Homo sapiens: one gene and its partner. The protein of the gene in region 1 interacts with the protein of each later gene in a biochemical or structural test. Each region holds a gene or a part of one and is shown in the gene's direction. Other genes may lie near its edges.

Evidence for each region.
Region 2: the proteins of F8 (region 1) and PHYH form a complex in vitro, tested with the Homo sapiens proteins (one study listed by BioGRID).

What each region holds. Positions count from the first base shown.
Region 1 is NC_000023.11:154,932,224-154,935,723, reverse strand, and holds part of F8 (coagulation factor VIII isoform a preproprotein), read left to right. Parts: intron 1-3,500. UniProt on the Homo sapiens protein: Factor VIII, along with calcium and phospholipid, acts as a cofactor for F9/factor IXa when it converts F10/factor X to the activated form, factor Xa.
Region 2 is NC_000010.11:13,280,182-13,283,064, reverse strand, and holds part of PHYH (phytanoyl-CoA dioxygenase, peroxisomal isoform a precursor), read left to right. Parts: intron 1-1,954; coding exon 1,955-2,089; intron 2,090-2,883. UniProt on the Homo sapiens protein: Catalyzes the 2-hydroxylation of not only racemic phytanoyl-CoA and the isomers of 3-methylhexadecanoyl-CoA, but also a variety of other mono-branched 3-methylacyl-CoA esters (with a chain length of at least seven carbon atoms) and straight-chain acyl-CoA esters (with a chain length longer than four carbon atoms).

The sequences.
Region 1 (3,500 bases):
TGGGTTGTTGAGTTAATTGATGAACTCATAGATGACATACAATTTATCTTTTTATTCTTGTGTCACTTGTGCTTTTGATGTCACATCTAGGAAGGCTTTGTCTAGCCCAAGGCCACATTTACTTCCATATTTTCTTCTAAGAGTTTGATAGTTGTAGCTGTTACATATATGTCTATGATCTAGTTTGAATAAATTTTTGTGTATGGTGTGAAGAAGAGGTCTAACCTCTTTTTTATTTTTTGCATGTAAACATCCAGTTGTCCCGGCACCATTTGTTGAAAATATGATTCTTTTCCCATTAAGTCATCTTGACACCCTTGTTGAAAATCAATTGACCATAAATGTGAGAGTTTATTTCTGAACTCTCCATTCTGTTCCATTGACCCATACGTCTTCTATAAATTCTTATAGCTAATTCTACATTAGACTTTGGTTTTTCAGATGTGGTCATCTCATTAGATTATGGTGATATGTTTGGTTACAAGTTTTATCTTCTCCTTGGCAACATTTTTTTTATTACTGCTCTTCTTTTATTCGTTTTTGTTGTTCCTTTCTCTTTTTGTGAGACAGGGTCTCACTCTGTTGCCCAGGGTGGAGTAAGTGGTGTGATCATGGCTCACTGCAGCCTCAACCTCCTGGGCTCAAGCAATCCTCCCACCTCAGCCTCCCAAGTAGTGGGACTACAGGCATGCACCATCATGCCAGGCTAACTTTTTTATTTTTTGTAGAGACAGGGTCTTGCTTTGTTGCCCAGGCTGGTCTTGAACTCCAAGCTCAAGCAATCCTCCAACCTCAGCTTCCCAAAGTGCTGGGATTACCAGTATGAGCCACTGCACCTGGCCTTGTTGTTCCTTTCTTCCTTTTATCTTGTAGTATCTTGATCCTTTTTGCTTATTATTTATCATTGAGGTGAGTTTGTTCTAAATAAACTTTTCGCAGAAAGTTTATGTAGATATATTAATATCAATGAGGCATTAGGAGTGAGTTTTAGATTAGCAGGAATTCTCTTATGAAAGGTATTGATTGTATGTGTGAGTTTTCAGCCTTTACTTCTCTCCAGCCCATCAAGATCAAAGCTGCAGAGTTGTTTACATTTCAGAATTTCTTTCCTCCCCTCCCCACCTTGCAAAACAGACTTACAGTGCAAAAATGACTTGTCAATGTGATTCTTTCTTCTGGTCCCATCTTTCCTACCTTTTGAGACTTGTGTTGAAAGGAGTCCAGTAAAACCACCGATGCTAGCTTGTATACCCTGATCCCATTGTTATAATGAATGACTGACTGTTTTTCATATCAAAGTATAATACTTGCACCTTGATAGAAGAAAGAAACAAGGCCAGGCACAGTGGTTCATGCCTGTAATCCCAGCACTTTGGGAGGCTGAAGTAGGAGGAATAATTAGACTTTGATATTAAAAATGGGGAAGATATGGCGGTATAAGATATGAGGAAGTATGTCTTCTTGGACTTTTCTGAAATCTGCCAGCCATGAGCATCCACTCTTTTTATCTTTTGATACCTGTTTTATATTAACTATACTTCTATTTTGTGGTTTCATGGCTTCAGATATCTTCCAGCTTAATTGTACTCTGTCTTTAATTATTTGCAGCAATTTCTGAAAGGAGCAAGAAGAAAGGCCAGCCCTTTCTTCACTACCTTAAAAACTGGTCATCTTTTGAAACCCCATGAAAGGCACAGTGGGTGACCATCTACATCAGGAGTGGGCAAACTATGGCCCTTGGGTAGTCTGGTCTCTGTCCGTTTTTGTAAGGTTTTATTGGAACCCATACACACACAAACTGATCATCTCTTGTTATGTGTTAAGTTTTCTTATAATTATTCTTTTCTATTTCATCCAGCTGAATTACCATTTCACCTTGTGTATGCCCTTTCCAGTCTTAAATTATAGAAGCTATGTCTTTGTGGTTTTAAATTATGGAAGCTGTGCCTTCTTGTGTTTTAGTATGGCAAGATATTTGTTCTTACTTTTCCTCTAGAATCTGCAGTGGATTACTTTCAGAAGTAGGTATTGCCTCTAAGTTTCCTGACTTCTGTTTCCTTCTCCCTGTTCTGTAGTATATTTATAGATTGCATGTTTTCTCGTCCTTAAACAAGGTACAAATATGTTCTGATCAAGGTTTGCTAGCCGAGAGGATAAGTGGCTTGCTCTTAGCCTAACTCTCTGTCTACTTAATGGATGTCGAATTCCCTTCTCAACTCAACAGCTAGTAACTAGTTCCAAGATCGGATAATAGCTTACAGAATTAATTAGTTCAGTGAAAGCCCTGGTTTGATCACAGAGGCAGGAGACTGATCTATATATTTGTAGTGCTGACTAGACCCCAACTTGGCCAGATAGCTTATACCTATGTCAGAAGTTGGAGGAGGAGATTGACAGCTGAGGTGTCTCCAAGGGAATTACAATTATTTTCATTTTCTTTGTGTCTGTAATTATGTCTCTTTTCTTACTTCAAATTTTGTATATGTGAAATTTCTTAATTTTTATTTGGTTATTTATTTTATTGACTTTTTCATCAAACAACCAACTCTAAGTTCTTGGATTGAAATTTATGAATTAATTATAATGTTTTAAATTTACCATTAGTCACACATACAATACAAAAAGATATTTTCATTACAAAATTTTAACCCAAGCCATTAAAACTAAACTCCAGCTTGGTCACCATTCCTAATACCAGGCCCCTCTCAGAGGGGAGGGTAAATAAAAGTCCATTTTGGTAACTAGTTTGACGAGAATCTCTAATTGTTTCCCTGTTTTTCTTATAATGTCTGCCTTTGAATTATCCTCTTTTTTTCAAGAGTTCCATCATATAATGTATTCCTTTTTGCTTACAGATTGACCTCCTAGAGGCATGCATCCCCCTGCTCCAGTCTGAGCTGGTTCTCTCTAGGCCTGAGGCTCAGTTATCAACTTGGGACTTTTATTTACCCTCCCTCAGGATAGGTACCTGGTTCTTGGATACCAGGTCTTACTCTTGTTTGAGATACTCCTTTATTTTGGTGGCAAACATTCCATAATCACTTCCTGATAATGGTGACATTTGAGGTAGATTTTCTGAGTCTTTATATGTTAGAATATGTTTTTATTCTCCTTTGCCACTTGATTGATAATTTGGCTGCACATAGAATGTAAGCATTCACAGGGCTTTTGGGAGCAGCTTCCCTTGAGAAGAAGGTGGATGCAGTTAAGATCTTCCCTGAAAAGACTGTGTGAAATGACAAGGCTATTGAGGTACCCAACGGGTAGCTTGGTAAAGGTGTATCTTGTCTCTTATGTTTATGCATCTACTTTACCACCATGTAATTAGCCTATTATAACTTGTTGCATTCCTTCACTCAGCTAATCTTGTTCATGGTAGAAATTAATATTGCTAGTACCATGGTAGAATTTTATATTAGCTGGATCCTAGACCTAAATGCTCCTTCCTTGTGCTTACATATTCTGCAAGTGGGTGACAGTGGATGCTAGGTATTGTGTTA
Region 2 (2,883 bases), on another chromosome or scaffold:
AGGATCACTTGGGACCAAGAGCTCTAGACCAGTCTGGGCAACATGGCGAGACCCCACTTCTACTAAAAAAGAAAAAATCACTGTTGTCTCCTGAGGCCATGGGTTAGGGGCCAAATTTCGTCTTCCATTCATTCATATTTCCACCAGCCTCATCAGGGTCAGGATTAGGGTGGGACAAGTTGGGGCACTCTCTCCAGGGGTAAAATGTAAGGGGATGCCAAAAAAAGACTCTGCAATCGAGTTTAGTAACATTTTAATGCGAAATTTAAAAAAATCAAAATTAATGCAAAATACCCAATGTATTGGCTGCGCACAATGCCAAAAGTTTAAATAAAAGACACTATTGGACCCCACACTAGCACAACCTTCAGAGCTGTGCAAGTAGCGAGGTGCAGGCACAACGACACAAATCATGTTGTGGGTTTTAATATATAGACTTGGCAATTTTCCTTTTTTCTTTTTTTTTTTTTTTTGAGGTGGAGTCTCACTCTGTTGCCCAGGCTGGATTGCAGTGATGCAATCTCAGCTGACTGCAACCTTGGCCTCCCAGGTTCAAGCAATTCTCCTGCCTCAGCCTCGTGAGTAGCTGAGACTACAGGCACACGCCACTATGCCCAGCTAATTTTTGTATTTTTTAGTAGAGATGGGGTTTCCCCAGGTTGGCCAATCTGGTCTCGAACTCCTGGCCTTGAGTGATCGTCTCACCTTGGCCTCCCAAAATGCTAGGATGACAGATGTGAGCCATCTCGCCTGGCCCAATGTTTTTTAATGCTTTTATTTTAAAACATTTTATTATTTGTTTATATATTTATTTGAGACAGCATCTTGCTCTTTTGCCCAGGCTGGAGTGCAGTGGTGCAATCATAGCTCACTGCATCTTGGAACACTGAGGCTCAAGCCATCCTCCCACCTCAACCTCTCAAGTAGCTGGGACTACAGGCATGCATGACCACACCTGGCTAATTTTATTTTTTCATTTTTTGTACAGACATGGTCTTGCTATGTTGCCCAGGCGAGTCTTGAACTCCTGGCCTCAAGTGATCCTCCTGCCTTGGCCTCCCAGAGTACTGGAATTACAGGCATGAGCCACCGTGCCCAGGCTTAATGACTTTAATGTTCTGGGAAAATATTACTATAATTTCATAAAGATACAGATATAGGGGTGCGTGTTTTCCCTTTGCCTTGGGCTCTGTTACAGTGCCGTATGGCACCAGGGCTTACAGAGGCAATGGAGTTTGTGACTCCACTCCCTAGAAATTTGTTGTTTGGGGCAAAGTAGAAAGTCTTTCTGACAAGTGTGATCACTTGTGACAAAAAAGGTAAGTTTTAACGATTGCCTTGCAGCTTAGATCTGTTTATAACTTTTTCTAAAATAGGGAGAACCAAGCAATTTCATCCTTACCCTCAGAAGGAAGCAAGAGGGGTAATATATGTCACTGGTATTGGCTTTTAAATGTCCTTTTGATTTGAGAGAAGGTGTCTGCATTATTTTCTATCTCAAGGTATTTTTAGTTCTTTTCATAATCTATTGCCACTGAAATAACAATTCATCCCAAATTGGACCAGGTAACTAACTTATGAGATAAACTGCCGTGGAATGCAGTCCTTCTTAAGACTTTGGGATATTCATTCATTAGGAAAATAAAATGCTAAAAAAAAAAAAAACTAAATACCTCTTACTGACATAATTCCATTCCCTCTCCCATATATACCTTTCAAAAATACATGTCACATCTGGTTAACGATCTTTTGAAATTTCTCAATTAACTTCTAGCTGGAAACAAAAACAGGCTTAGTTACAAAGAGATTGACACAGGATGCAATGGACCTGACTTTCCACTTAGAAATCAAATACTGAGTGAAATAAATGACTTTCTAAAAGAAAGACTCCCTGCTTGGTCACTGGTATTCATGGGATGTTTTTCTCCAATATCAATTTGTTCACTTTGCACAGGCAATTTCCTGCCATTTCGCCAGTGCCGATTGCCACTACATTGACGTGAAGGGCACCAGTCAAGAAAACATCGAGAAGGAAGTTGTAGGAATAGCACATAAATTCTTTGGAGCTGAAAATAGCGTGAACTTGAAGGTATGTTTGTATACAATAGCAAGGTAAAAATCTCAGGTTTTTCTTTTCTTCAGATGCTTCATAATTCTCATACCTAGTTTATTTGACAGTATATAGTGCTTGGGTTTAGATTCATTTTAGGGACATCGCTGAGCCCCCACCAAAAATGACAATGGAATTTCCATTTACACTTGTGCCCCCGTGCAGGAGGCTTGAGAACTTCCTGCTGCTTCTTTATGTCTTGGGGCTGTCCAGAGGTGTGCTGGCTGTCCTGTTTCACACAGGACAGTAAAGGAAAACAAAACTACAGATTGAGATGAGAGAAAATCAAAGACAAAACCTTGCCTTCTGGCTGGGCATGGTGGCTCATGCCTGTAAATCCCAACACTTTGGGAAGCCAAAGCAGGAGAATCACTTGAGCTCAGGAGTTGGAGACCAGCCTGAGAAACACAGTGAGACTCCATCTCTACTAAAAAAGAAATAAAAATAAAAATTAGTCAGGTTGGGTGGAGCATAGCTGTAGTCCCAGCTACTCGAAGGCTGAGTTGAAAGGCTCACTTGGAGCTTGAGGTCAAGGCTGCAGTGAGCTGATTGCACTACTGCACTCCAGCCTGGGTGACAGAGTGAGACCATGTGTCAAAAAAAAAGCCTTCTGAAGGGATAGAAGGAAAGTTATAGGTTTGAGATCCAATCATAGGCCATGTTTATTAATATAGAATAGAGTATTTATGGCTGGGCGAGGTGGCTCACGCCTGTAATCCCAGCACTTTGGGAGGCCAAAGCAGGCAGATCACAAGGTCAGGAGATCGAGACCT